Linked DNA regions of Homo sapiens: region 1 is linked to region 2. The links come from fine-mapping of genetic effects on gene expression. A gene starts in region 2. The other region holds a variant in brackets. All regions are shown on one strand. Distances are between the middles of the regions. Region 1 overlaps CTSC (cathepsin C). Region 2 holds the start of RAB38 (RAB38, member RAS oncogene family).

What was found.
Region 1: its variant is fine-mapped to the expression of RAB38 in uterus (GTEx, PIP 0.98).

Annotation. Positions count from the first base shown.
Region 1 is chr11:88,289,456-88,305,770 of GRCh38, forward strand. CTSC (cathepsin C) reads right to left here. Exons shown (of 7, transcript NM_001814.6): 5 at 11,075-11,190; 6 at 6,678-6,809; 7 at 4,137-5,053. The coding sequence ends at 4,551. Among named protein-coding and RNA genes, the nearest start is that of CTSC, 40 kb to the right of the region's middle. RefSeq lists enhancers at 7,927-8,620, 13,949-14,008. The variant G/A (reference allele first, on the strand shown) is at 8,162.
Region 2 is chr11:88,167,823-88,184,137 of GRCh38, forward strand. RAB38 (RAB38, member RAS oncogene family) reads right to left here and starts at 7,621. Exons shown (of 3, transcript NM_022337.3): 1 at 7,361-7,621. The coding sequence starts at 7,562. It overlaps MIR3166 (microRNA 3166), which reads left to right and starts at 8,680; the gene lies at 8,680-8,771.

The DNA.
Region 1 (16,315 bases), 120 kb after region 2:
AAGTATTACATCAGCATCACATCCTCAAAGTTGGAAAAGAAGAGGTTAAATTTCTTCTACTAACTCTTAAAAGAGATTTAAAGAAAAGGGATATTGAAAAATGGACTTCTCAAAGGAAAAAGGAAAAACACACACACAAAAGGCATGTGCTGCATTTTCTGCCTGAGTTAGTTTATCTCCTGAATTTCCAGTTTCCTATCACTAGGAGGACATAGTATGGCATGACCAGAAAGTCTGCTGAAGTTCCAATTATTTTATGTCCCAGGCAATTTCACGCAAATTTGCACTTTTAATCGGAACTAAAATTCAATGAGGTCAATACTTTACAGTTAATATTTCATTAGGCCCAGTGACTAACTGACCCACTACCAATACACAATTCTAAGTCCATGTGCTGCCCATCAAAGAAGATTCTGATATATCTAAAGCTCCCCAAACTTGGTCAGGAAGATTCTACTTAGCTTTAAACCAAAAATAAACCTTCATTAGAGTTAAGAGATATAACTATATTAACATCACTATATTTAGAAGAAAACTGTTATATTAATCTTTCCAAACCACCACACATGGATTGGCACTCAGAGTACCTGCCCCAAAGAAATGAGAACAGGATTTCTGGGAGGTGGCACAAATCTTGGAAATGATTTTAAAGAACAAGGTGAGGTTACTGGTCTCACAACATTTAAGAATGGAAACATTATTTTGCCATTTTTCTTAATTGGAAGGCAGCAGGTACAATAGAAAGTTCTGGACATATTGAAGCATAGATTTATCTTTATTAGCTGGAAGCTCAGGCATGTTACTTCACCTCTCAAGGCCCATTTTTAGCAAGAGGTGGACTAGATAACCTTCCAGCATTAATGTGATGTGAATCTGTTATGCTTACTTTATCTTCATGCTTTTAGAACCTGAATAGGAAAATCAAATTATTATGACTTTACATTACCTTCAGTCTTTTTCACTTCAAAGTTGCAATGTCTTTTCCCTGGCTGGGTCCTGTTACTCATCCCTGTGGTAGTCTCTCAAACTCCATCACCTCTCAGACTTGTTCTCTTCCCACAGGCAGCAACACAAGAATGGTGGTAGTGAGGGATAAAAAAATTTTATAGTAAAAAATAAAATTAAAACCATATGCCTAACTCATAAAGCTTTTTGCTTTTCTCTGTGCGTTTCCTTGTGCTAGTGTTCCTCTGTAGGTTCTTTTCGCCCTTAAAAAAACAAACAAAAAACCCCTCATAAGCCCTTCTCTATCCTCTTGTCATAGAGCTTATTTATAGAATACATCTTATCTGATTCCTCATAGCAAAATATTATTTTACAATTTGAGTTCAGAAAAAGATAATATTTATTTACTCCTTACCATATGCTAAGCACTGTTCTATATACTTCATATATATATATATATATATATATATATATATATATATATATGGCATTTAACCCTCAGAGAACTCTATGAAATATGTATACATATTCCTTACTATCCAAATCTATTCAGTTCCTGAGTTCTGTGAGCAAGTTTTTATGATCAGGGAAACTGCATTGTCTTTAATTATCTTTAGCACCTCCATTTGGAATGATGAAGGGCCTGAGTTTAGATAGCAAGTAATGCTGTTAAAAATGCAAATACAAATACATTTAGTTCCTTTGTTGCAATGGTAATGGTTCAGAGAGGACAAATTCATTAGCCGGGTATGGTGGCATGCACCTGTGGTCCCAGGTACACAGGAGGCTGAGGTGGGAGGATGGCTTGGTCCCAAGAGGTTGAGGCTGCAGTGAGCATGACTCAAAAAAAAAGTCAGAAATTCGGACAGTGAGAGAGATATCTATGCCATTTTCTCTACTTTTACAGAAAAGAAAGAAAAGAAAAGGAAGGAAGGAAGGAGAAGGAAGAAGGAAGGAGAAGGAAGAAGGAAGGAGAAGGAAAAAGGAAGGAAGGAGAAGGAAGAAGGAAGGAAGGAGAAGGAAGGAAGGAAGGAGGAAGAAGGAAGGAAGAAGGAAGAAGGAAGGAAAAGGAAGGAAAAGAAAAAAGAAAAAGTAAAGAAAGACAAGAAAAGAAGAGGGAGGGAGGGAGGGAAGGAGGAAGGAGGAAGGAAGGAAGGAGAGAGAGAGATGAAAGAAAGAAAGAAAGAAAGAAAGAAAGAAAGAAAGAAAGGATGCACAGTGCATAGGTAGATAAGGAAACTGCCTAAGGTTTCATGGCTAATAAGATACAGAGTCAAAACTCTTATCCAGGCACTACAGCTCCAGAGTCAATATTATGCTTGTGTTAGACTGCCCAGCTAAATATTATTTTTCTTCTTTGTGACCTGTGGCATCATTTATGTAGATAATCCTTGTAGATTTTCTGGGAATGTCTTTGGGGAGGTTAGCCAGAGTTCCCATCTGATTTTTTTTTCTAGAGCTCCATTTGTTAAAAGACTCCGAGTATGTGTTCTATTAGCATCAATATAAAAAGTTCTAGATACTGACACCAACTGCTTTTTGTACAGCTTAACAGTCTAATCGCATGGTTTGTGGAACCCTAATGTTCCATTTAGTCACTGTATTTGATGAAATCTGCAACATGGATGATATAAATGATCTTTCTGTCATACAGAAACAGGAAAAGCAGACTTCGACAGTAGATAAATCCAAGTTGAAATGTAGTCTATCTTAAGTTCTTATTCTGGGCAATCCCTCATAATCTCTGAAAACTTAGGGCCTCTTCAAATCATTGCTTGTCCTCAAGCAAACATGTTGTATAATCTGACTTCCATGCCAGTTAGGTTCACACCAGTATTTAGCCATTTAATATTTCCTAAAGTATTTAATGAATGACACCAGCAATGAATTTACTTAAGAGCCAGTCAGGGCCCTCATGAAATAGTGCAAAATCACAGGCACTCTACATCATGATGAGTTGTTCTCATGTGTCAGCCGACTGCTGTCCAACTGGAAAACTAGAGAATAAATTCATGCTTACATGTTAAATAGAATTGTGTTTGTTAAACTGACAGATAGTATCTTCATGAATTTTAGTGAAAAAAAACTTATGCTTGATTTCAAAGGTCTGTTTATATGTTCACATAGCAGTGAGGCTGGGCACAAAATAGGATGGAAATTACATTCAATCAGTAACAATAAAAAGAAAATGTATCTCATCTCCTTGGAGGCCTTCCAATGATTCCGACCCTGGCTATGCCTTCCAGTGCTGTTTCTGTGCCACCATGTGGTGAAAAGATCAAAGGTATGTGGCAGCATGCCAGGAGGTCCAGGAAGCCAAACTTTAAATGGTGCATACTCCTGGAGCCCTACTGCAGTTCAAGGAGGGTAAAAACATCATTATAGTGAATTTTAATGCAGAAAATACGTGGGTTTTGCACAAAACTCTGAAACTCAGAATGTTAAGGTGAAATTTCCAAGCATGCAGCTAGTATCCCTGGTGATTGCAGATACTCTGGTGGGAAATGCTGAGATTCAGTGCTCGAAGGTGCTCAAAGAGAACTCGGTTTCGAAGATCTAAGTTTTAAGCATGACTCCATCACTTGCCAGCTGTGTGACCTTGGACACATCTCTTGCCCTCTAAGTTGAGTCTCTATCTGTGCAAAGAGTTTAAATTACATGATCTTTATGGTCCTTTCCAGCTTGAAAAGGCTGTGGTCCGTGTTTATGTTTCAGAGCTCTGACTGCCTTATTCTCCTGTTACATAATTTCTAAGAGAAGGCATATGTTACTTAGCATAGAGGTTTCATATCCACTGTGAAATATCTCTGGGAGATTCCAAAAATCTATTTAAATCTAAGCTGCTAGTATTTCACTCATTAAGCTATTATTGCTCACCTACTGAAGACTAAGCAATACTCCCAAATACAAGATACACACCATAGAAAATAAATTCACCAATATCCAGATTTTGTCAAAACTCTTATTTCTTTTCTCTGAGGTCTCAGACTCATCAAACATCCAAGGATAATTTTAGGATTCACTAGGCATTATCTGAGTATATCTCCCTGTCATAAAGGTTCATAGTTTTGTTTTTAATTGAAATATCTTCAAATGCTTTTCCTTCTTAAATAAATGCTTACATAGGTAACATAAGTGAATCTTACTGAGTCAGTGATAAAAATTCCCTGAAGTAAACATAAACTCCATAATGCAGTTATTTTTAAAACTTTATTTTAAAAATATGAGCATCTATTTTAAAAGTTTTGATAATTATTGCCATTATTTTCTTGTGATTGGTACAATTTAAAAATAAGTCTATGTTTTCACATTGATTTTAAAAAATATAGCATGTTTGAATTACAAATGATTAAGCAAACTCTATTACTTCATAGCTGACCATCTTCCAGAAAATTCCCACTTAATTGAATACTTAGAAAAAAATGGCCAGTGGCCGATTGAAAGGTATATTAAAATTAAGGGCAGTTTTAATTCTGAAGACAAATATCTTCATGGAAATCTATTTGTAAGCTTCTGAGATTGCTGCTGAAAGTCTACAGTCTGTGAATATACCAATTCCCCTTTACAACTGATGCAGATCATTATGAAATACTGGAAGGCATACCCTACAATTTAGGAATTGGTGTGGCTGCCACTGCTATGCTCTCAATTGCACACTCATCAGTTCCTCTGCGGATCCGGAAGTAGCCATTCTCACCCCAGCCGGTGCCCCAGCTGTTTTTAACAATCCAGTAATCCATCCCAGAGGCTGAGTCAGTGCCATAGCCCACAAGCAGAACAGCATGATTAGTCAGCTCAAAGGGGTTGAAAGGGTCTCTTAGACCAGTGTGGTGGTAGATCCCCTTTTTGTAGTGGAGGAAGTCATCATATACTTCAAAAGCAACTGCCATGGGCCCATGATGGACCAACTCAAGCTTCATCAGGGCTTCATTGCAGCCTCCATAGAAACCTCCTACATAGTGGTACTCAGAGGAGTAATAACGAAAGCAGTCTTCCTTCATTTTGCATGGAGAATCAGTGCCTGTGTAGGGGAAGCAAGCTTCTTCCACCAGCCCAAAATCTTGGGCGTACTTTCCTGCAATAAGGTATGGGAAGCCGCCTTCACAGCCTGAAGATGAATAACACACATGGTTACCCCTTAGTAGAAAAAGGATTATCCCATTTTCTATTTTTTCTTCTTTGCTCCATTATTCTTTGCATGTTACCCCTGAAAGTTGTTCTTAGCTTAAGCATCACTTCATTCATCCATCCATTTTCCAACTAGCTAACTATCCTTTCATCCTCCTTCTACTTAACAGATATCTACTTAGCACCTAATATGGATGTAGCTATGGCAAAGTGGTTAAGTGGGGAGGCTCTGAAGCCTATATAGGTTTAAAGCCAAAGCCGTGTGAAGAGTTTAACTTCTCTGTATCTCTGCTTACTTACCTGTAAAATCTAGATGGTAGTAGTACTTTCCTCATAGGGTTAAATTAGTTACTTCATGTAAAAATAGCAAAAGTTAGGTATTATGGTCATTGCTAAGCAGCCAGACCCCACAACTTGGCTCTTTCTCAAGCAAGTCTTTTCCCTGACAACCTCTTGCCGAAATGTCTTTCCTACCTTCCTCATGCAGTCCTGGCCCTATTATATATATTATAACTCTGTACTTTTTCTTCACTGTTCTTCACTCTGTTGTTATAATTATTTAATCTCTATCTCTTACTTAACTGTAAGCTTCATGAGGATAAAGATTGTCTTGATATATTATAGCCCCTATAGCCTACAAGTCACAACTAGTAGTACATATTTTAGAAAGAATGAAAGGCTCACTGGCAAATAATCACTCATCAGCAGTTTCACTAGTGAGCTGGGAAATTCCTAGTGGCCAAATCTGGGCTTGAAAGCATAAACTTTAAAATGGTAACGTTTCTCCCTCAATCAATTATAGCTGTGTTTTCGACATACATCACATACAGCCTGATCTGAAAGCCTAAGTACAGATTTTTTTTTTTTCATAACAGGGCCTCACTCCGTTTGCCCAGGCTGGAGTGCAGTGGCATGATATCGGCTCACTGCAGCCTTGACCTCCTGGGCTCAGGTGATTCTTACACCTCCGCCTCCTGAATAGCTGGGACTACAAGCACACACCACCACGCCCAGCTAATTTTTTGTATTTTTAATAGAGAAGGGGTTTCGCCGTGTTGCCCAGGCTGGTCTCAAACTCTAGGACTCAAGAGATTCACCCATCTCAGCCTCCCAAAGTGATAGGGTTATAGGCATAAGCCACTGTGCCCAGCCCTAAGTACAGAATTTTAAAATTCTCCCAGAGAGAAACCAGTGTTAGTATAGTTTTAATAAAAGTTGGGTTTTGGAGACGATGATTAGAAGTGAAACTCCAATGCTAAAAGCTGTGAGACCTTCAAATTATTAGAAAAATTTCTTAGTTCCTGTTCCCCGCCCATAAATAGGGATTATACTTACTACTTCTCAGAGTTTTGAGCATTGTTAGGCAATATATGTAACAAGCAGAGCTCACTCAATATATAGTAACTATTGACATTTTGCTGGATGGTACAGTAAATTCCATGAGCAATCATCCATTAATAAGTGATAGGGCCAGACTTGCACTCAGATTTTCTGACTATAGACACTGCGCTCTCTCTACTGCATCATCCTTTTGCCTTTGCCAACAACAGCCAGCTGCACACAGGTAAATAGCTCATAAATGGTGTCTGAAATGCAACACTTACCTTGAGCATACTGGCTACAAGACACAACCTCCTGAGGGCTTAGGATTGGGGTCTGAGAATTGTTGGTTAGTATACGGATTCTCGCTTCTAGCATACCCATAGAAGCAAATGAGTAGCAGCTGCCACAGGATGCTGGCGATGAAAAAAAGACACATAATCCAAGAGACATCTGAAGCCTCACAGAGAATCATGCAAAAACCTTAGTGAATCACATACATTAATGTTTATACTGAATGTTGTTGTTTATAAGAATCAGCACAATAAGAAGACTCAACTAACAAGCATTGTTGAGCTTATTAAGGCAATCATTAAGATTTCATCCTTTTTCATCAAAAGGCAAACATTAGTACATGGGACTTTCTTTGAGAATATTTTAGAAACTAAAAAAACCCCTCATAATTTCTGAGAAGCTTTTGGCAATATTCTTGATAATGATGAAAGGATTTATGTCTACAACGTTCAAAGCCATCAGGTTGGGTGATGGAGGAATACATGTGAGCTGTGGAGGAATACACGTGAGCTGAGCTTTCAAATATCTCTAATGCAATGAGATGAAGGTTTATGTCCCTCTAAAATCATGTTAAAACCCCAATCCCAAAAGTGATGGTCTTAGGAGGTGGGGCCTTTGGGATTAGTGACCTAATACAAAAGGCTCCAGAGAGAACTCTCATCCCTTCTACCATGTGAAGTTATAGAGAGAAGTCAGCCTGTGAGTCCTATTTCCTTTTAACTACTGCCATTTCTGATGTTCCCTAAAATTCTCCCCCTAAAAATCTCAGATTGACCATATTGTACACTGTTTTGCTACTGAGAGATTATCTAAATTATGAAGATTAGAAAAGCACTTGGAAGAAGGACCTGTGAATTCATCTAGTGTACAACCTGCTCACTTGATAGATAACGTGTAACGGTGGCTCAGAAAGAAGCAATGAGCTGTCCAAGGACACACAGCTAATAGATAGCAGGGACAAGTGCCTTACTGTCTCCTAAGGCAGGATTAGTGTCCTTTTCAATTTATGGGTCTGTGTCTACTTTAACAAATATTCAGATTTTCTCTCCCTGTCTCGTAGTCACTAGACAGGGCAAAATTAGCTTATATCTTTTGTTTTCAAAACCATGCAGATGATACTATCCATAGGACCCATCCTTCAAATGACGGAATGTCAAAGAACATTGTACATTGTACACTGAACATATAACTGTGTTCAGCAGTACCTTCCAACAGTGAAGAACACACTGAACTAGGAGTGAGGATACTTTTTTTTTCCTCCTTTCTTGTTTTGCCCCTCATTAGCTGTGCAACACTGGACAACTTACAAATACACCTTGGCGCCTCATGAAAGGAAACCAATGTCAAAGAAATAACACAACCCAGGAGAGTCTGGAAAAGGTCCCTTTCTGACCACCCAGCTTTCTTGGCCCATAGCAGCCATGGAAATAATCTCTCTCAGTACTGGTCATTAAACTCCCATTATCTGACCATC[G/A]ATCACTGTGGGAGGCACAGGCTGCAAGTGCATTCAAGGGCTCTGAATGTGTTCTATTTACAGAGCAATCACAGGAACAAGGGAAGAAGATAAACTTCATCAAGCCCCTGACCTGTAAGAATGTGTCAGCTACCAAGGTAATTAATGCCTCATTTCAACAGCCAAGGCCAATCTGATTCTAAAAGAGCCATTTATCTCTTAAGAATACTGCAATGCAATAAAGAATAAGAAGTGAATCTAGCCCAGCCAGAGCTCTGCAGTAATCAAATTTCTACAATCTCAAATAGATAGTGTGATCTTCATATGGTATAACTATGTTCAGCAGCACCTTCTAACAGTGAAGAACACACTGAACTAGGAGTCGGGAGTCAGGATTCTTTTTTTTCCCCTCCTCTCTTGTTTTGCCTATCATTAGTTGTGCAACACTGGGCACTTGACCTTTTGACACTGTTTTTTTCTTTTTAATCTTTTGTGTAAAATGAATTGGGTGGAGCAGTTTAAGGTCTCTGCCTTCCTGCTCAAATAATATAAATAGCATTTTGAAACAAGACTTAAATGGACTAGACTTTACGCATTATGAAAACACTCTGTATTTCCTAATTAATGTGACCCAGGAGAGACACTTCCCTTCTCTCTTAAAAATACAATAATAAATAAAAACAGCATAGCTGGGAGAAGAACAAAGAAAGCCCATTCTGCCGTATTTCTAAGCTTCTCTTCCCTCTCATACCTCAAAGTATTAATAAATCTAGGTATAAGGCTTGTTCTTAAATCTGTTTTCAAGTGTAAAGGTAAAACCTCATTTGTCCTCCCACTATTTCTTTTTTCTTTAATTTCAATTTGCTCTCTGACTACAGAAAAGCTGTGAATTCCCTTAATTGCAGCTAATTCTGAATTCTGGGTTATACAGAACACTGGTATTGGCAAAGTTGGTGGGAATTTTCAAGTAGCCCAATTAGCAGGAAGAGAAAATACTTTTTTCCCCAACTTACAGTATAGAATACCAAAAGAAAGTCAAAAGAGGAAACTTTAAGTACATTATTTTCTCAAGTACCTGACAAGATACTGTAGATGAGGGATCAATTCAAAGCAATTAATCCATCAAAGCCCTCTGTTTTGAAATTGCCATTTCTCTGTACAAATCATACTTATAACAGTCAAAGAATAAAGAACATGGGAGAAAATAACAGCTTTTACCAAGCTATATGAAAACCAATGTCAAATAATTTGGCTTTAGAAAGTCGAATTTCCTTTCCCTGAATTATTATCTCATATAACTTGTCAATCATTTCTTTTGGGAAGGGTTTGCTAAACTCTTCTACCTTCTCTTATGTTACCAATGAATTTAAAAAATGCTTTATTAAAGTAGTTATCATGCTTTACTTTAATGTTTTGCTTGTATGTCTTGCTAAACTGTAAATCACTAGGACAAGGACTATGTCATATTAGTCTTCATTTCCTCTGCCATTAAAAAAATCCTAATATATTTTAGATGTTCTGGTAACAACACCAGAAGCAACACTATAGTATCAGTAGCTCAAATTATATCATGCCAATGCTATCATGTGCCAGGACCTCAATGATAAAGTCAACACATAATATGCACTATGAATTAATCCTCTCAGGCACAAAAAATCTATTTGGTGATAGCATAACTTGCAATCTCTTAACATGGACCCTTCAATTTCACTTTCCATTCATTTCTCAATTATCTTCAAATTTATCTTATTTCCAATCCCACTTTCCAAAGAAGCCCTCCCCAGGAAATTGAGAAGGTAGGGAAAGATTTCAGGACCTATACTTTCTTTAGAGCTGAAGAGCCCAGAATAACTGGTAGAAAAGCAAAGAGACGAGACCCTTGGTGTCAGATGAAAAACAGAAATGTTGCTGACTGGCTGTTATAAGACCCACTTGGGGCTCTCAACATTCAGAACACTGCAAGAATTCAGTGAGATGGGAGCTTGGAGGGCAAGTGATGAAAATGAGACACGGCAGAGACTGATTATCACTAAAAGTTTAGGAAAGGGAAACAACAGTTTATCTTTGGGTACTATAAATTTATAATCCTCCCAGGAGACACTAATCAGAATGTTTCCAGACAGCAAATACTAAACCTATTTTATAGTAACAAATCAGCCATGGGTAGTATTATCTTCAAAATGAGCTTAGAAGTAATAAAACTGAGTATTGCATAGATTCTCCAAGTCATTGTTGGCTACAACTCAGGATAACAAGATAATTTGCTATCAAGTGCAGTTAGAGGACATGTTATGAAATCAACTCACATTGTATCAAACTTCTGAAAATAACTGGTAAAATTCAATAATAGGAATACTTTTCATGAACCTGGGTTCCGCCCTCACGCCATCACTCAGGAAGCTGGGTTAATACTTACCATCACATATCGTATTCTAATGTAAAGTGAATTGAAAGGTCCTTACACAGCTCAAAAAATCTACCAGGAAAATAATTTAAGGATTTATTTTACGGGTTCATGTAGTAATTAATGACTAAATTAATGGGGGTGGGGGAATACAGGAACAGGTATCAAAGAAAGATTCCAACAAACCACTTGCAGAATGGTACACAATTCTTTGCTTCTACTAGAATCTTTCCTACTAGGAGGACAAATGAGTTTGTCTTACATATCACTCTGATTGTCACTAGCTACCTGGAAAATATATTGAGAAGAGTACTGAATAAATGCTAAGCTCAGTAGAAAAGAAAATTTTTTACTAAAGTTTGTCATGGATATAAAAGGAAAGAATAATTCATAGGCCACCTATTTTCTATTTCTGTAAAAAGGGGATCATGCCCATTCCATCTAGGTATCCCCGAAATCCATCACACAGAGCAACTGTTCAATAAATAGTTCCAAACAAATTAACAAAAAACTTAGGCTTATTTTTTTACCTTGGTTTCGAACAGGACTGACAAAATTGATACCATGAACATTTCTCCAGTCCCAAGATGTTGGCAAATGCAAAATCTTTTGCTGTATTTCAGCAGTCAGTGGTGCAGGTTTGGGCCTAGAAAGGAAATATACATTTGATATCAACATATAATCTTTCCTTTGAGGATGATTTCCTAAACTCTACTATAATTCTATGATTTCAGCTACCAGACTAGCTAGGATCTAGATTCAGACCCAGAGCACCTGTTTTATGAGTGATTCAATGTGTCAATTACACAATGGAGTTGTGTAAATGGCTTTCATTCGCTGTTTCTTTTTCAGGATCTAGTATTGATAATTTTCCTTTGTGAAATGACACTGGTTTTGTATATCACTGTGATGTTATTTTTAGTTTGCCTGAATAGCTGCATTCTTACTCATTTTTGAAAGATTTTTGACCAAGAAAGAGATGAGAAGTAGAAGACATAAGAAGGGTTTAGAGAAAACAGAGGAATCACTGATGTTTGACTTAGGAGACAGACACATTGGTAGTGAGGTGGCTGTAAAAGAAGTGAAGTTGGCAAAGGGAAAAAAGGGTCTATGTGAGGCAGGAGAACAGGTTCTGGAGGCAGGGAACATAAGGCCAATTCACACTGACTTCCTAGAACTAAATAAAGTGGAAACACTTCAGCAATGGCAGGAATGCGAAGGGCTTTGTCACTTCACTTCATCCTCTCCGTTTACATGGGCCACAACCCCCAGGAGTAACACCCTCTCCATTAACACAAGGCCTATACTGAGTAAATGACTTTGTAACTTAACTCCACCCTCTTCATTTACATAAGGCATACACCAGGTAACCAATGGGAAACCTCTAGACGGTATTGAAACCCCAGAAAATTCTGTAACCAGGGCCTTGAATCATTTACTTAGGCCCACTCCCATCCTGTGGAGTGTGCTTTCATTTTCAATAAATCTCCGCTTTTGTTGCTTCATTCTTTCCTTGCCTCATTTGTGAGTTTTGTCCAATTCTTTGTTCAAGAAGCCAAGAACCTGGACACCCTCAACCAGTAACAAGCATAACACAGGCTGACTAGCTCCGTAAACAACAGATAAAACTGTTTCATTATAGAACCACACCTTATATGACAGTGTTGGGCTGTAAGACACACAAAGGAGAGTTGCCTAGGCCCATGAATGAACGGACATTTTTGGGAAGTGAGAAAATTGTTCTAACAGCTTCTCTGTATTAGCGATTTCACACATACATACACATGCACACACACACAAACACACGCGCGCACACACACACACACACACACACACAGAGAGAGAACCACAGCTTTAGACACATTCGACTTCTTGGAGTTTCCCCAAGACTGCCAAATGGCCTCTCTGTTCTATATCTTTATGCTGCTGCTCCTGTAACCTCAAGTGCCTGTTGCTCACCACTTAAAACTCCCCTAAGAGTTTTTCCCTAACTTGTAATTTTCAAAACTGCTCATAAAGTAGCCTCCACTCACCAGCCCCCAGCGAAAACTCACTTCCTCTCTCTCTCTGCTCCTTCAAATTTGTTTTTAGGGCACTAGTCACAATGTGGTAAAAATTATTTTTTGTTACTATAAACTATTTGAATTTCTTATTCAACTGGGCATTGTCATATCACACTGTTCTAGTTTTTCAGTGGTTACCAGATGTTTTTTACTAGGCTAAAATTTAGTCAATGGCAAAGATTCTTTCTGGGCTACTTCATGCCCTCTGCACCTATCCACAAATGGTCCCGTCTCTCACAGCTTCTCTTAGATATAACACAGGTTAAGAATACATGACAAGGGGCCAGGCGCGGTGGCTCACGCCTGTAATCCCAGCATTGGGAGGCCGAGGCGGGCGGATCACGAGGTCAGGAGATTGAGACCATCCTGGCTAACACAGTGAAACCCCGTCCCTACTAAAAATACAAAAAAAAATTAGCTGGGCGTGGTGGCGGGTGCCTGTAGTCCCAGCTACTCGGGAGGCTGAGGCAGGAGAATGGCATGAACCCAGGAGGTGGAGCTTGCAGTGAGCCGAGATTGCACCACTGCACTCCAGCCCGGGTGACAGAGCAAGACTCCGCCTCAAAAAAAAAAAAAAAAAAAAAAAAAAGAATACATGACAAAATGGAACTGAGATGAAACAAAGAGAAAAACAACAACGATTTCTTCAAAAATAGCAATTGTAACCTTGACAATTGTATAGATTACACAAACACTAGTTAATTGTTCACTAATTTTTTCTCCTAAGCCAGTCACATTGGTTGAAGATATACATGATACAGAGATAAATATGAGATGGTCATTAACAATATGGAAGACAATGTTAAGAGACATAATATACACAAAGATTACTATAACAAGTTACAGTAATGCTATAAAACACACAATTTGGACAAAGTCTATATAATCAAGGATCATAAAAATCTGTGCCTCATAGGTAATTTTATATATAGGGTGAGAGAAAAAACAAAGCTTGGACATTTCTTCTAAGATGTATAAATAAAAACTAAGATGCAAACAAACCATTTCCATCTTTGAATGGAAATAGTTTCTGTGGTTTCACATTGAGAGAGTATGTTGAAGAAGAAACTCAATTTTTTTTTAATTCTCTCACTGAACACTATCAACTGTCAACACAAAAGACTTCTGTGATCAAATGCATGTGGGTTTTTCCCCACAAATCAAGCAAGCAACCAATTTCACAGTGAATACTAGCTGGGTGTCCTCCAATCCAGTTTTGACACTGTGTACTTAGAGATGGCATCAGATCTCACAGGCTGAGGGCTCCGTCCCACAAAACTGCCCCCTACTTCTCATGCCAATTGAAAGCCCTAGGTTGTTTACCTGTGCTTCTGGCCAACCAGCTATAATGTGGGGATCCTATGACACCCTCCTTGGGTTCAATTAATTTGCTAGAGTGACTCACAGAACTCAGAGAAATACTAACTAATGTTTAGTGGTTTATTATAAAAGATACTACAAATGAAACAGATGAAGAAATGAGTAGGGCAAGGTATGGGGGAAGGGGCACACAGCTTCCATGCCCTCCCTGAACACGCCACCCTCCAGGAACTTCCACTTGTTCAGCTATCTGGAAGCTCTCTGCACCCTGTCCTTGTGAGCCTTATATGGGGACTTCATCAAATAGGCACAACTGACAACCATGTAGAGATGTGACTGGACATAAAGGGAATGATGTAAACACAGCAAGGCCTGTCCAGATTCTTCTGAGCCTCTCTCTGTTCAGTGTTCCTTCCTTTAGGGTATGACACAGGACATCTTTGGAAATGAAGGTCTTATGACCCAAGATCAGAAAGGCAGGAGAAGATTAGAGTGCTGCCCTGGGCAGGTGAGAGGAGGGCGGAAGAAGATCAGAGAGAGAGAGAGAGAGAGACTCTGTTTTCTGAGGCCTACTTCTGAGGCCTAATGTGCCCCAACGTTAAAAGATAGTGACAAGGGCTATGGGAGTTATGAGCCAGGAACTGTGGACAAAATCTAGTATGTGTTAACTAGTTGTCTTGTTTAAACCTAAGAATATACTAATATAAAGGATAAAAAAGAAATTTAAGTTTGGCAGCATAATGTAATTTCAGGGCATATGATTTTATCACTTACTATCTGTGTAACATTTGGCAAGGAACCTAACATTACAAAACTACAGTTCACTTCTATTAAAGTGGGTATAATCATGCTTACCTCAAAGGGTTGTTATGAAAATTCAATGTAATAATGGGTAACAAGTGCTTAGAACAGTGTTTTTCTCTGATAAGTCCTTAATAAAATGGCAGCTGTTATGAAGATAACATTCATATCATTAACAGGACTAAATAAGATGCTGATACAGTTTAAAGCAATTATCTGGCACAAAACAGTCATTACAATATTAAGTTCCTTTTTTCTACCATCCTATAAGGCAGAGATTTGCCCATCATTGCACACACAAACAAAACAAAAACAGTGTGAGAACTGAGGCTTAATGATGTTGTCAAAGGTGTTTGACCCAGAGCAACTCCATCTTGAATAGGAGCTGGGTAAGATGAGGCTGAGACCTACTGGGCTGCATTCCCAGACAGTTAAGGCATTCTAAGTCATAGAATGAGATAGGAGGTCAGCACAAGATTCAGGTCATAAAGACCTTGCTGATAGAACAGACAGGCTGCAGTAAAGAAGCCAGCTAAAACCCACCAAAACCAAGATGGCGATGAGAGTGACCTCTGGTCTTCCTCACTGCTACACTCCCACCAGCACCATGACAGTTTAAGAATGCCATGACAGGCCAGGTTTGGTGGCTCACATCTGTAATTGCAGCACTTTGGGAGGCCAAGGTAGGCAGATCACCTGAAGTCAGGAGTTCAAGACCAGCCTGGCCAACATGGCAAAACCCTGTTTCAACTAAAAATACAAAAATTGGCTGGGCATGGTGGGTCATGCCTGTAATCCCAGCTACTTGGGAGGCTGAGGCAGGAGAATCATTTAAACCCAGGAGGCAGAGGTTGCAGTGAGCCAAGATTGCTTTACCGCACTCCAGCCTGGACAACACAGTGAGACTCTGTCAAAAAAAAAAAAGAATGCCATGACAATGTCAGGAAGTTACCCTCTATGGTCTAAAAAGGGGAGGCATGAATAATCCATCCCTTGTTTAGCATACAATCAAGAAATAACCATAAAAATGGACAACCAGCTGCCCTCAGGGCTGCTCTGTCTATGGAGTAGCCATTCTTTTATTCCTTTACTTTCTTAATAAACTTGCTTTCACTTTGCATTGAGGACTCGCCCTAAATTCTTTCTTGCACAAGATCCAAGAGCCCTCTCTTGGGGTCTGGATCAGGACCCCTTTCCAGTAACACTGTGAAAATGAAGAGAGAGCAAGAGGAGTCTGGGGGATAAAAAGGTGAGAATTACAAACATTTTGAGTACAAGATACAGGATTGGCTCTTAATCTTTTGGCCCACATTCTTTACAAATCTAGTGAAAGCTCTAGATTCAGAAATGCTCATAAACAATAAATGCTGTCTGTAATTTCAGCAGTTTCAAAGACTCCCTATATCTCAAGTTAAGAATCTTTGAGAGTTTCTATTACGTCATTGGATTCTTAGAACAGAACTAATTTATAAACAAAAATGCTAGTGAAAAATCAGGAAGCCAGATTATAATATCTGCTTTCATATTTCCTACTTCACTCAATTCCATCTCCTTATCTTAAACCTTCTATAAAGCTTTAGTCATGAA
Region 2 (16,315 bases):
CCATCCTAGAAGATAAGGATCATCCCTTGCTGGAATAAACCTGATTCCTACCCCAGGAGCAATAGGTCCACTGTATTCTTCTGGGAATATGCATCCCAGAATCTAAGAAAGTAACATAAATAAAGCTTCTCAATGGTTTGAAAGCTTTCAAGGAATCTCCAAAGTGAATCATCAGAAGAGGGAGAGAAAGGATTGTAAGTGTAACTCAAAACATCTATTCTCAAAAATTCACCAGATGAGTGATGGCTTTAGTATGAACCTCAGTGACTGCTTAACACCAAACCACTTTTACTAAGCAACAATTATGTACCAGGTGTCATGTTCTACTTATGCTTGGCCCAGCTTCCTCATCTATGAAACTGGAAGTAAGAAGACCTATTTGTTAGAATTACTGTGGTATTTAAATTGCAAATATTGCTTTGATAAATTGATAAATGTAAGGAATTTTCACTTTCACCGTTCTTAACATTTAATTTGGCATATATGACCTTTCCTAATTTGTCTGCCGCATCCCTCTTAACACCTCCTTCCTCACACATTGTAATCTTCAGCTAGGTCAGATTACTGAAGCCCGCATGATGTCTTCTCATCTCCATGTTATGGCTATGGTAAGTCCCCTGGTTGACTTTCTTTTAGCATGTGATACTTTCCCATCAGATCACTTTTCAATGACTAAATAATTATTTTGAAATAAATATCTTTATGCCACACCAGACTCTAAAAGTCCGTAAGAGCAAAGATCAACCTATTCCGATCACCCCTAAATTTCTCTGCTTATCAAGTGAATTAATAAAGTTTCTCAGGCAAGATCTTATACTTCTCAAATCTTCAAGTTTTAAAACTGCATTTTTATATAAAATGCAGTAAAATAAAACAAAAAAAATTAAGTAGCACTTGAGCCCTTAATGACAGTTTCTTTGTTCCTCACAAGAAGACCACAATAGGAGAGACATCCTGGGTTTCCTTTTGACTTCACCAGGCCTCAAGGACTCCAGTCACTTCTTAAATTCAAGGACTTCACAAACCCATTCCTCAATTTCTCTATGACTTGGATCTATCTTATTTCTAATTTTCTAATTATCAGCCCCCCTAATACCTTATTCTCATCCCCTCCATTGTTCTCATCACAGCATGTGTAATCTATAGCCAATAGAAAAGAAAGATGTTCTGGGAAGATAAATTTGGCTTTGATACACCTGAGAACTGGAGGAGGCAGAGATTAGAGCTAGCTAAGAGGCTATGATCCAGAACAGGTATGTAAAAAAGTGCTGTCTCTGGTCTATGGCAGTGGGAAAAGAGAGGCATATGTACTATCTGACTTGGAGACTGGTGACATATGAGGGTCAAAAGAGAAAAGATGGCAGAGGTTTCAAGCCTAAGTAACTGGGGGTAAGGTATTTTGGTTAACACAAACTAGAAAGTCCACTGAATGTGGACAAATGTCTAGTTTAGACTTACAAATAGCATCATTTACTACTTATCATTAAGTGGGGGCAAATATGCATACATTGTTTGTATTTCTTTCTTGTTTTTCTTTTCTGTTTTCCAGCTTTGCTACACTGAGCACATATTACTTTATTAATAGAAAAAACAATCCTGTTTTCACACAAACTTTGTTATGCACATGTTCACAGGCAGTATAGGTGAGATATTGTAGAGGAGATGTTCAGCAGGAAGATGGAATTGTAAGCCTGAGCTCATGAGTAGTCAAGGATATAGGCATAGTTTTAAAGTCATCTGCATAGAGTTAAAGCCCTGGGAATGCATGAGATCCTCAAGCAAAGGAGACTGAATTAGAGGGCCAGATGATGAAATTCTGTCTCAAGTTGTGCAGCCCTGACGCACTCACAGGGAATGACTGGTGCTAGGTAAGAGCACAAGAAACATCACACTAGCCTTGAGGTTTTGTCAACTTCCTCAGATTTAGTCTCAGAGAGTAGGAGAACGAGGTGTGGACAACATCTCTGCACCATGAGAGTGTTCTGAAGTTATGTCTATCAATGCTCTTTACTTATTGTTACAGTGATTTGTTTTTGTGTCATCATGCTGATGAAGCTGGGATGAAGAAGTAAATCTTATTCAATTATTATCCTTCTTTGTTTTTCCCTCACCTAAGTACTTTCACATACCAGGCACTTTATATATACATACATATATTTGCTGAAGAAACCAATCACACATATAGAGCTACTTTTTCCAATCCCCTCCCACTCTCAAATGCCTTAGCTTTCCTTGGTCAAGCTGCTACTTGCTTTTCTATCAGAATCAGTCCTCTAAAACCCAGATGACACGACATGTCCTGCCTTGAGGCGTTTTCTCCATATATCCCTCATTCCTACTTTGAAAGTTCACCATTTTTGCTCACTGTACACATTATTTACCCGTAAGAACATAGCATGTTATTTTACGTGGCATTTAGAAAATCTGTAATTAGCTAAGCTAGAAACAAGGCAATAAACTGCCCAGTGGAGCATGGCTCAGACTCGATATGCATTTTGGGGGGTTTTATTTGACACACTCATCGCCAAATTTAGCTCTTTCTACATTCCTAGACCTACTACTTTGACATTTAAGACCCATCTTCTACAACTGCTTGAAGAAATAGTCTTTCAGAAATCGGTACTAAAGAGATAGTTAAGTCCGAATCCTATCTTTGGTTGAATTTCACAACCTGAAAGAACTTCACAAACTCTAAAACAACATAACAATGTGACCCAAATAAGTGTCAGAGTTGCTGGTGTGAAGAGTCAGTTTAAGGACTCCTGACACTGGGCCTGGGCTGCCTTCATCCTGTTACTTTGTCTATGGGACAGTTAATGTATTCTTCTGCTGTCATGTCACATGGCTTAGGTGGGGGAAGCTGGTATAGATGTGCCTTGAGTGGAAATATTTTTCTTATAGGGTAGATCTTATTTTAAGTATTTAGAGGCATTTGTTATTTAGCAGAGCTCTGCAGTCAAACTTTTACATAGCAAAGAAACACTCGAAACACTCTCTAAATTGTCTGCCAACTTAATTTATTTTCCACTATAGCAATATAAAACTGGATTGGGTTTTTTTATTACCAACAGACTTGGTTATCTCACTCATACAAGTAAGCTGAAGCTAAACAGACCGACTGTTCCTATTCTCCTCTGCCACTTATGATCTCAGGCAACTCTCTTACCTCTCTCATTTTTTATCTTTTTAAATAAAATTGGGTTTAGGACTATCTGCTTGTCTACACCCTCAGCAATGCTGGGGAGATCAAGTGGGAAAATGTATGTGAAAACAGTCTGTAATAATAACAATTATGACAACAGGAATAATAGCTAACACTCATTCAGCATTTATTATGTGTCAGGCACAGCTTTGCATAAATTAACTCATTTAATTCTTACAAAAATACTAAGATGCAGGTATTGTTATTATTCCCATTTTACAGACAGAAAACGAAGGCACAGAGGCTAAGTAACTCACACAAGTCACAAAGCTAGTAAGTAAAGAAGCTGGAATAAATGACCATGTGCTACCTATACCCTGAGGACAGTGATAATAAACCTTTTGCTTACAGAGACTACAAAAGATAAAATAAGTATCACAGGAAAATTAAATAATCATCATTTTATAGATGAGGCAATTGAGGTTCAGCAAGGTTTCACAGTTTGCCTAATTATATTTTCAGAGTATCTAAATTTAGAATATATTTAAACTATGTCTGAAGTGCTCTGTTTTCAAATTAAGGACAGTAGAGCAAATCTTTTGAAAACAGATTCAATGGTCAATTTTAAATTCTAGTGGCCTAACCAGCTATTATACTGGGAAATTATAGATTAAATATGCCTGGACATTCATAAGAATAAGGGCTTAAGAAATATTAGCTACTATCCCTATAAATGTCCCAATGCCTAGATCAGAGTCCCAAAGCACATCAAGAGTTCTAGACAAGATAGTACAGTTCTTTTTGAAAGGGTGAATGAGCAATTATAGTCTCTGGATTTGGAGAGTAATAAAAAAGTGGAGTCTCAAGTGTGAACTTTTTGTTTTCATTTTCCCTAAATGACCTATTTTTTTAAAAACTCTATAAATTCACATCCTAATCAAGATAAAATTTTCAGAAATAGATTTTAATTCATTCCTTTTCACTGAATGCACAGTGGTACTTAATAATACCAAAAATCCAGTTAGAAAGGAGAAGGTAAGTTTAACCCACCTACTAATGAAACAACACCTTTAAAAAGAAGGCATAATCCCTGTGGGCCAGCTGTGTGCCAGGCACTCACAGGCCAGCAAGTGCAAACAGCAAGGCTTGACTCTGAGTGAAACGGAACCGGGTCAAATCTGGCTCTTCCTCTACTAGCTGGGTGGCCTCAGGCAAAGTTACTTCATTTCTTTGACTCTATCAGGAGCCTCTGAACACACAGCTGACCTTCTAGCATGGAATCACTGGAATCCAGGCCAACTGCTGTCCCCTATGGGGTTTGGTGGGATTTATCATCTTGTTTCAAGGCCTACTTCACAAGACCCCAGAGATACTTTTTGGAGTCTTTCAAGATCAGACTGGCCAATCTACATGGCTATAAGAGACACATCATGGGAATTTAGTAGATTAAAAAGGGCCCTATTTGGCATTGAACCAAATGAGTATCAAGAGTCTAGCTGAGCCAAGATTCCCTTAATAACAAATGTATATGATATCCTATCAGAACAGTGCAGGTCTTCTCTATCTCATTGAACACCCACAACCTTCTCAAAGCTAGGCCCACTAACCTCCACTACCTGCTCTCTCCGGGGACACACCAGAGTTGAACACTAAGGACGGAGAGATGCATTCTTATCTGTGGACAGACAGGCTGTGATTTGAAAGTACTATAAGGTACACCTGGCTGACTGGAGTCTGGGTGGGCAGTTGAGGTTGTATTTCACATGAACTCATAACCCACATGGCTCCCTATGCAGCTTAAACCATGAAACATGGAGCACGTGCATGTTCCAACCATTTCCTACAGTGGCCTAGCTTTCACCCAATTCACTGTGCCTGCTGTCCAATCTATAATTCAGCTAACAGGGCCTTTGGGCTTAAGGCTGCTAAAGACAGGTTACCACTGAGCATTAGAGCTCTGGGAAAAACAAGCTCCTCTACTGAGATGTTGAATGTAACACCACCGCAGTATCTGTAGAATGAACTTCCCAAGACTTCAGATTTCTTATTTATACAGACTTCTGTGACTACAGCCTCCACTGCAACTTCAGTCTACAAAACATGGCTAACGAAGTGCTTTCGAGCTTGGGAGTTAAATTGCTCCTGAGAGTATGTCAGGAGCAAAGCTGAAAATGGTGATAACTTGGGGACAAAATATATATGTAATATTGGGATCACAATTTATTAGGAATTAATAAGCACTTGTATATCATATCCTTCTTGCCTAGCATTTATATAGGCTTAAAAAAATGGTAGCTAGTGTGATAATAATCCTTGCAGATCTCCTAGAGAACAGGCATGATCACCTTCAGCTAGCACTGTTGGTTGCTCACCTGTCATCTATTGGGAGAAAGCATTCTCCCTGTTTACAAGTAAGGAAACCAAAACAAGGAGGTTAGAGAACTTACCTAAGATTGCCTACTACATGCAGAGTAAAGTAAGGATCCAGATGGAGGCAGTTCAACTCTGGAATTTGGGCTATTAATCACTGTACCCTTCCATCTCTTCTGTTTATGTGAGGAGACTGAAATCTACAGACATAGAACTTCTCTGCTGTCATGCTGTTACCTGGATTGTACACAGAAGTCCAAATTACAGCTACATCCCCGTTTAAACAGTAAGCCGTTTCTAAATCTGAATCCTGAGGACTTTCGAGCAGCCAGAAGGGTTTTCAGACATTATGACATGCAGCAAGAAAGTACACAGAGAGAATTTTTTTAGATGAAAAGCCCCATCCAACAGTGGCTGATAACATTTTCTGTTCTCTGATAACCCCCTTGCTACTAGAGCAGCTGAAGATGACTCCAAATGCATGAATCTGTTCATCTGTTCACATGCTAAAAGAAAAAGGCCTGGCAGTTCATGATTAAAGAGGCACGAAAGTCCCCAGATCACAAATGCCCTTTCAAAAATTTTCCACATTTGTTCTAGTTTCAAGCCATGATAAAGAGTTTCCAATCAAATGCATCAGCTAAAATGAATCCATTTTCTGAAACAGAAGTGGCTAGTTTGGGTCCAGCACTTATAACGAAAGGTTCCTGGTGTCACAGACCATGAAATAAGACTGTTTGAAGTTGTTCCCATGGAGAATCCCAGAGGACTTTAAAACTTCTGAGCAGGAAGATCCTTGACCCTTGCCCAACTCCTTTCCACTTAACAGCGATGCAACTGAGCTGAAGAGACTTGTCCAAAGCCACTGAGCAGGTTAGTTAGTGGCAGGGCTAAAATCTGTAATGAGGGGTTGGTCATGCGCAGGTTGCAAACAGCCTTGTCCAAGGATTCACACTTGGAGTAGATACATTGCACCCTCACTTTTGACTAGGCCTAACTTCTGGTACAAACCTGTGGAGTCAAAATCTGATTTTAAATATTGTAAAAAACAAAAACAAACAACCTCTCATTTTTCAGATCTCTCAATGAAAACTTTAGGGCCAAATCAAGAAATCATAAGGCTATCATAGGCCCTTACATAAAAATGGCCTTAAAATATACACACAACCTCCTTTTCATAGAAGACAGAGAGCCAGAGAGATAGAAATACAGAAAGAGAGGGAGAAAGAATACTTTGCCCCTGACATATACACACAAAAGTACTTGGCTTACTGTAAGCAAAAAGCAAAAAAAAAAAAAAAAAAAAACAAAACAAAAACCCTCAAACTCCTTTGTCTTAAGGGCAGAGAGAAAGGTGACAAAATTTGAAATAAAGTGAGCCACTGAAGACAGGAATGGGCAAACTCCAGCTAGCCTGGAACTATCCCGGTTTCCTCTGTGAACCAGCCTAGGGGCTTCCCCTCGGTCCGCCCCTGCACGGAAGGACGTGCGTGACACTGGGCTGCGTCATTGGCAGAACTGCCCGCGCCCAGAAAACGAGCTGGAGTGGAGAACAGAATGCAATTGCAGACAATCTTCCTCTGGTTCCCTGGGGAGGCCTGCTCTGGGCAGAGAGATCCCAGGGGACTGTGCGGGAAGGAGCTAAAGCAATAGCCCAAAAGCGCCAGGGAATGCACTTGAAGTTTCAGACGTTTTTCTTTTCTTTGAAACTAAGTTTCCAGCCCACCAGGAAAAACTGCCTCGCGACCTAGTGATTTTAATCTCACGCTTGGCCGCAAGCCGCTGCCTCGAGACTGGAAACCGGCCGCGAGGCGCTCTATCCCCCTGACCCCCTCCCCCCGCGCTCACCTGCGATATCCCAGAGCTGCAGGCGCACCACAGTCTCCGGGTCCCAGTGGAGCACCTTGAGCGCGAAGTCCACGCCGATTGTGGCCCGGTAGTGCGAAGAGAAGTTCTGGTGCACGTAGCGCTTGATGATACTGGTCTTCCCCACGCCCAGGTCGCCAATCACCAGCAACTTGTACAGGTGCTCCTTGTGCGGGGCCTGCATCCTGGCGGCCGGCCAGACGTGCCGTGCCTGACCAGGGAAGCGCAGCCTGGGCTCTGCGCACGAGAGAGACTTGGGGAGCGCAAGTGTAGGTGCAGAGAGAGGCGTGGGCGGCGGGGCGGGGGCTGGGGGGCGGAACTCCTCCCCTAGGGGTTAATCCTCCTTCCTACTCCGCGGTCTTGGAGAGGGGAGGAGACAGGAGCGAGTCCCGGGACTGGCAGCTGAAAGGGGTTCGCGTGTGGTTGCCTGTTGCAGCGCTTATTTATCCGGCGCTTTAGAGTTTCCGAAGAGCTGTTTTCACCTGTGACCCTGGCCACAAACTTGTGAGGTGTGGATCTTATTTTCCACGTTTTGCTTGCGAGAAAACTGATTGTGAAAAAGTACTCTGCGGGAGATGGCCGGTGAAAGGCCCCGTTGACCACAGGTCTGAAGTCACAGGCTCTTAACTACCCCACACTGTAGAGAGAAATTACAGTATTAGGAAGCCCAAGACTGGCTGGGCTTGGTTCCTGCGTGCCCTGGTTTTTAAGTTGAGGGACCATAAGTAAGTCATTTGAGCTCTCACAGCCTGTTATTTCTCAATGAATGGCAATGCTGACCTCTGAGCAGCTTGGAGGTGGGAACACTGAGCACTTTCACACCCATTCAACTGGTAATCAGTTAACAAGGAGGACAACTGGGCCGAAAATGCCAAGGGCACTGGTGACTTTTAGCCTCTTCCCATATCCTAAAAACTCAGAGCTGCACAGAAAGACAGTTTTAACAATCGGTCAGATTATTACAAATAATAATAATGGCAAACATTTATTGAGCACTCGCTATATGCCAGAGGGTTTATAAATTATGTCATTTAGTCATCCCAGCTGTCTTAATAATAGATACCATTTTTCTTCCTATTTTACAAATGAGGAAGCTAAGGACCAGACATTTTAAGTAATGGACCCAGAGTCAAATAGTAAGGAAAAAAACCAAATTCAAACATAGGTCTTTAGGTTCCCAACTTCTTTTTGTTGTTTTTGTTGTTTGTTTTCATTCATTTGACCAATATACATTTTATTACCAATTAATATATGACAAATTGTACTTATTTTGTCTTGTCTGTCTCCACCTACAAGAAGGTAAATTTTTTTGAGGCCAGTAGGCATTGTCTGCGTTAGGATTTCTGTATCATCCTCCTAACGCAGACAATGCCTACTGGCCTAAGAAAAATTTACCTTCTTGTGGGTGGAGACAGGACAAGACAAAATAAATACAATTTGTCATATATTAATTGGTAATAAAATAAGGCAGAAAGGGGATGTGAAGAGATTATATGGGGTTTGCCTTTTAGATAGGGTGGCCAGGGAAGGTTTCAGTAAGATGGAGACAATTTAGTAAAGACATAAAGAAAATGAGAAATTGGGCATTCAGGGCTAGGGGGTGAGCAGTTTATACCAAAATGAGCTATTTTGTACCTGAATGTGCTGTGAAGGAGCTCTGCTCACATTCTATCATTTCATCTTCTCAATTGCTTTATGAAGTGGGTTATTTTCTTCAATTTATAAATAAGGAAACCAAGATTAACAGCAGCTTTCTCAAGGGCACACATAACTAGTATGTGTTAGAACTAGGACTTAAACACAGGCCTGTGTGAAAGGGAGAAAGGAGGTTTGGCAAGGCCATTGTCTTTCTGCCTTCCTCTTCTGGCCTGACACTCCCTAAACTTTAGCCTCCACATGCCCCAAACAAGCAGAGGGATGCTGAAGATGTGTACCCGGGACAAGTCACATAACCTCTGAGCCTTGGTTTCCACATCAACGAAAGGAGAATGATAATACCTATGGCAGGGCATGGTTGCTCATGATTGTAATCCAAGCACTTTGGGAGGCTGAGGTGGGTGAATCACTTGAGGTCAGGAGTTCAAGACCAGCCTGGCCAACATGGTGAAACCCGTCTCTACTAAAAATACAAAAATTAGCCGGGCGTGGTGGCAGGTGACTATAATCCCAGCTACTTGAGAGGCTGAGACAGGAGACTATCTTGAACCAGGGATGCAGAGGTTGCAGTGAGCCAAGATCACACCATTGCTCTCCAGCCTGGGTAACCTGAGCAAGACTCTATCTCTAAATAAATAAATAAATAAATAAATAAATAAATACAAATGAAATTGTTGATAAAATGCTGGGTCCATAGTAGGTGGTAAATAAATTGTAGCTATTACTATGAAATGAGGGACAAGCTTAAAATACTGTCCACAGGCACTGTCCTGTGCAGTTTCATCTTTCCTCAGAGAGTAACTCAGAAGTTTTGCTCAGAATGGACACTAAGTGACAGTGTGTAGAATTGCAGTCGTTTGTGTTTTATTGAAGTGCTTAGCTGGGTAGGCCTCATTTACTGGTTTCCACCCATGCGAGGACACACCAAGAAGATCACATCTAACAAGTGAGACAAATACTCTACCTGCTTAAAGAATTAGCCAACAATGTCACCTCACTTCCCAGGGAGGGGAATTCAGTAGCCCAAGATGCTTAAGCCATTCTAAATGCCTGCAAAATTAGGGAGGATGACAAAATGAGACCTTTGCCAGCTCTAAAATCCTGGGTCTGTAAATCTGAGAGACAGGCTTTGTCTGGCCAACAAGCTCCTGGGGTAGAAACAAGGTAGGAGTTTGAGACATCTTGTGGGCCAGCCTTCAAAATTATACCCAACCCAACTTTCTTACCAGCCCCGTACTGTTTTCCCAAGCCTGGTCCCGGCAGAGTCATCCTCACCCTTATCTGTTCTCTTTTGAGCAAGAGCATATTGGAACATCAGACATTTGGATTTATGAGGTAGGACAGGCAGGGCAAAGTTCAGGATTTCTGGTCCTGAAGCTGATAAAATTGGAGGAAGTAGCTTTTTGAGCAAAAGAATGCAAAATCAAAAATATATAATTAGGTCTAGGGCCTTGGAAGGGGTCCTGAAGCTTCAGTTTTATTGCCTCTCTGGGGGTAGGAGATTCCTCTCTCAGGGACAGCAGCCAACCATGGTGAGCAAGTTCCTTGGCCAGGCAGGAAGTATGTGCAGTTTTGTTTCCAGCCGTACTCATTTAGGTCTCATGATCATTCTTCACAGTGGGAAGAAATTACTCTCGGTTTATATTTTTAAGACTTTTAGATTACAGTAGCTTGGTAAGCACCCCAGCCTAGCAGTTCAGTAAAATCTTCGTAAAAGGCGCCTAGGTCTCTGAACCTGAAAGTCCCTTGGGTAAAATGAGGGAGTTAGGTTGCAAGATCTCTGGAAAGTCCTTTGGACTCTAAAATATCAGAATTCTGGGTCTTCTAGACATTGTCTAGTAGGAGTGACACCCTAGCTGATTCTAGTCACCCCACAAGAGCACCACTGCCAAAGAGGTGATGTTTTCTCTCCTCTTTTAGGTTTGGAAGAAAGGCCATCTCAAAGCAAACATGATGCCATAGTTCTCCTCTGGTTTCATGGTGCTATTCTTTCCTCTGCTGCTGTACATTTTCCCACAAGACAAAGGCAATCCAAGAACATTCTTTTTGGAGGACAAACCTTCATGTACTCCCCTTCCTTGCTTTGAACTTATTTTCTACACTCAGAACTAGGCTGCAGACAGGGAGCCAGGTAGCCAGGGACAAACTATAAACTGGATCAAGCCAGACAGTGAATAGATGGAAAGGATATTATCAAGCAGCTAGACCATTCTTGCCTCCTCTTTCATTCAACCCTGTCCCCTGCAATTATGATGCTTCTTCAGAACCTATCTTCCCCAACCTGAACATATACCTGTCAAGATGGCTTAGGATTATCAGGAGGATCTCAGCTTTTTCTGACACAAAAGATCCAGTGCTTCCTCCCCATGGAGAGAACAGCTGTGCCATTCGTCCCCCTCCCAGCAGCCACACTGCACCATGGAAACCTGTTCTCCACAGTAATTCTCAAAACATCTCTGGTGATGTTTTGACAAGCTTACTACCCTCAAATTGCTAAACCACAGCACATCTTCTCACCAAGGTCGGGAAGGCTGATGACTCAAGTTTGTAAAAGGTGTGTGAGACCACAAAGTGCTCAGAATTCAAGCCAAGAATGATATCCCAGAAGGCACAGCATTAGGTTTCTCTTAGTCTCCATTCCCTTTCTGTCCAATGTGGGTACTTAGTCTTATGAAATGGAAAAACTACAATGATTGCAAATTGCTTTGCAAATGTAAACTTGAAGGGACAAACCCTCATGTTTTCCTCCTAGAGCTGCTGTGTTTGGTGAGCCCCTGTGAAGTCACATTATTTGCTTTTGCCATTAAGAGAGCCATGGGGAGTTATTCATTAGCTTATGTGAGCTTTTAATTATTGCTCTGAAGAAATATGTAAATGACTGCAAGATGGGGTCCCAAGGGCTCTGTTATAGAAAAGGTAATCTAATTTTTCTTAGATTAATACAAGAAATATATCTTACAACAGATGAATTTTACTCTGCAAAAGGCCTGGAAGAAATGACCATATATTTTATCATTCAAACTATGACTCTTGAGAGTGAAAGGGGGCACTATGAATAATTACACCAAACAACAGGAACAAGCCAGGACTTTCCTAAAGAATATTCATTCCTAAAGAAGAGGGAGAAGTTGAGGCTCTCAAATGAGATCTACAGCTATAGGGGCTTTGGAAAATTCTCCTAAACCACAATTTTAATAAATAGGTCTGCCAAGTTAAAGTTGCAGCTTATTTCTTTCTTGTCTTCAAAAAGTTCTCTCTTTACCCACTAGGCTTGTCTGAAACCTGTGCTAACTTGCAATTTGAGTCATCTAGTATTGATTCAGGATTGCAGCAGATGTCTAGAAGTAGGAAGCAACTTTTGGGTTATTTGGAGAGAGGCCAAGATGGATTCTGTATGGGATGTTCTTGAAATAAATACTCTTCAGTCTATGAGAAATTTCTGGCTAGATTTTTTTCCAGAAAAAAAAAGACTACAATAGGATATTTACGGGTTATCATGAGAAACTGATTGTAAGTGCATTTTTTAACCCACCAGTAGTATGAATCAAGAAAACCAGAGTATGACCTAAACCATTTTCAGCAGTGTATTTATCACCAACTAAAATTATGTGCCTTAGCTGTGCCAGACAGGCATGGCTGAATCGGGGTGTATTTTTCTACTAACACATCTAACATGGATGAGTGGAAATAAGCTATGGAATGGCCGAAAGGCAAGCATCTGAGAACATGGAGAAAAATGATTCTGTATGTACTAGAATTTCAACTTCCTTATCCTGGGAACCTACAATGAGCTAAGCCCTTTATCTTGGTAAGTTTATTTGATCTTCACGACCACTCTGTAGCAAGTATCTTCACTTTATAATGAGGGAAATAGGGCTCAAAGAATTTAAATAATTTTTCCAAAGTCACAGATATGGAGTGACAGCATGAGAATCGTAACCAGTAATTCCTAAATCTGTGCTTTTTCTACTATACCACACTCCTTTAGCATGTGATAAATTCCAGGTCCAGGCTTCTACTGTAGCTTTGTTTCTGCTATGCTACTAAATATTCAGGCTATAAAGAAAAGAGATTGATTCTATTTCCATTTGATAAAGTCTTAACTATGCAGGGAAACAGCCAATAAAGGAAGAAAAGAAAAATCTATGATTCAAAGATAAAAGGATATATCCCATAATCTCTCACCAACTCGGGCAGAAAGTCAACACAAGTAAAAGTGGCATGCTGTGCATTTGTGGGGAGAGGTCTGACCCAGTGCACATAGAGAGCATATACAAGGAATCTACTTCTGTTGCTCTCAGAGAAGGCGATAGGATAGTACTGAGGCTGTACAGTGAATGAACCCCTATTCCATAATGGGTGATGACAGAGAGACTGGTAGGGTCTAGCTCAGAAGGTTAACGCAAGAAAATTACTGACAGACCATCACAGCATAAACGAAGAAATATTTATGTACAAAGCATTGTAACAGAGTTTTTTGAGGATCAGGGTCAGAAGAAAGGTCTCACGTTTATCTCAAAGAGTGTATAAGATATAAGTCCCTGCCATCAAAAATGCTTCCATTCTGGTTAAAGCATCAGCATGTATACACATGACCTTCTGCCTTCCACTCTGACCTTCTTAGACTCCTTCACAACTTCCCTTCTTTTCTGCCCATCCACTAAAGTTTGCTATTCTTCATCCTTGGGACTCTGACTTTCCCTGCTTGAGCTCATCTACTCCTGTGACAATAGAGCAAATGGGGTTAGGAACTCTGGAATCAGGTGAGCTTACCTGATTTCACATTCAAGTTCTACCACTACCCAGTCATAAGAACTTTGTAAAGTAGTTTAACTTTTGCAAGCTTGTCCCTTCATGTATAAAATGAGGATAATAATTTTAACCTCCTATTTTTTTTTTGAGAAGACCAAATAAAATTCTGTGAAGTGCTTAGCATAGTGCTTGGCCCAGGATATGCACTGAAAAGAACATGTTGTTAAACTATCAAATGTCTGCTGATGATTTCTATATCTGTATTTAAAACACAACCTTACTCCTGCATTCCATAAACTTGTTCCAACTGCCCGTTGGGCATTTCTACCAGGCTTTCTGGCAGACAGTTTAAATGCAACATGTGCAAAACTGAACTCATTATCTACCCTAACAGACTTGTTCCCTTTCCTGTATTCCTGGTTTTTGGTCAGTGGTTCCACCCTCACCAAAGTCTACCAAGCTCAAAAACTCAGTCACTCTTGATTCCTCTCTCTTTGTTACCCATCTCAGACAAATTCCTGACAGCATTTCCACTACTTCACAAAATTACTATTATAACAAAAAGGTGAATATTTATGCATTATTATTGTGGAGAAAGGACCTTTGAATATTATGTGAAAGGCAGAAATAATAAAAGGAAAAAAAAAAAACTAAACGTGTAGACATTAACAATTACCAGAAGCAAGAAAAATGATACTTTCAGAATGAGAAAAATTTTACAACATTTAAGACAGGCAAAAGGAAATATACCTTATATTAAATTGTTCTAATAATTTTTTAAACACTAAATTAGATAAAGATATAAATAAGCAATTGACCACACAAGACAAACAAAAAGCCAATAATGTGAAAAGTGTATTTTTCACTAGGATAGTAATAAAAGTATGAAAATTAAGCAATAATGTAATACCATTTTTTACTTTTTAAATTGACAAATATATTTTAGTACTAAAAATATCCAATTTTGATGAGAATGTAAAAAATGGATACTATCATATGATCCTGTGGTGGGACTAACATAAGAAAAAGTTGTTAAAGGGAAATGTGGTTATATGTATCAAAAACCTTAAAATGCATGTGCCCTTTGTTAATTCCATTTTTAGGAATTTATGGTAAGGAAATCACTAAAGATGTATGTGACGATTTAGCTTTAAGAATTCCGATTGCAGTGTTGCTTATAAAAACAAAAATTCACAACTCCCTAAATACACATGAGGTTAAATATTGTAATGGTATACGTATGTGCTGGCACATTATACAGCCTTTATAAACAATGTTGAAGAAAATATTGCAGCTGGAAAAATGTTCACAATTTTTTTCATAACATTTTTAAATGGGAGGTCAACAAATCACAAAAAGTTAGAGTCCCCAATTTAGCATAAAATACATAATTTCCATTTTACACAAACATGCACACATTGTCGATGGAAAAAAGGTACAGAAAATTATGTACCCACATATTAGAGTTTATCTCTGGATAGTGAGATTATTGCTTCTTTTTTATATATTTTCCTGCTTTTCTATATTCATTTCATTTTTATGGAAATGTTATTGATATCAAAAGAAGAAAACAAAGTTAAAGTCAAATGTGTACTGAATAGGTCTTGGATGAGGATTTCCAGTGGCTCCTGTTCCAGGTTTCAGCATTCAGTGTGTAGAGACAATGAAGTTTCCTGTCTGGCCACCAAGTGCTGGGTGTTTTAGGTTTCAGTATTTTTCTAGCCAACCTTTCTCATTCTGATCACACTAATCTTATCAGCGCTGAGAGGTGTGCCCTCCTAAGGGAACCAACGCACTATTTCATGGGTGGCATGATCAGGCTGATACTCCAAAACCAGTTAGACAAGGTACTCACGCTGTCCTGGAGTGTCTCTGCCATAGTAGCCCTGGCTTAGCTCATGAAGACAAGCTCCATGTGCCTGAAAGGGAATTGACTGTCTCTTCCCAATTTGGATTGAAATTCCCACCAGGGTCACCAATATCCAAACCTTGATATCATCTTCACTTCTTTTCTGCTTGTGCCCTACTTTTCCATTTCAACACCAACTTGCAAATTCTTCTCTCCGGTGTCTCTTTCATTCATGCTGTCATTTCAGTCCCTCTTAATATCTCATCAAGTAGTTGTTCCCTAAGGACATCTTCCTGATTCAGTTTCCCCTGCTTTTTCCTATCCCTTACCACTCTCAGATCAATCTTCAAAAATAAATTACTACAAGCTGGGCATGTTGGCATCTGCCTGTAGTCCCAACTACTGGGAGGCTGAAGTGGGAGGTTCACTTTAGCCCAGGAGTTCAAGTCCAGACTGGGCAACATAGCAAGACCCTGCCTCTAAAAAGTAAAATAAAATAAAGTTACTACTGCAATAGGACACTCACTCCTCTTATCCCAACCTCTGAACTTATGTGTGAGAGGAATACATTGTTTGGTTTAACCTTTGGATGAGTTGGGTTTTCTGTTTATGCAGCCAAACCAAACCTTAAATGATAAATCTCCTTGAGTCTGAAAGAAGTCATGTCTCTGCTTAGCATG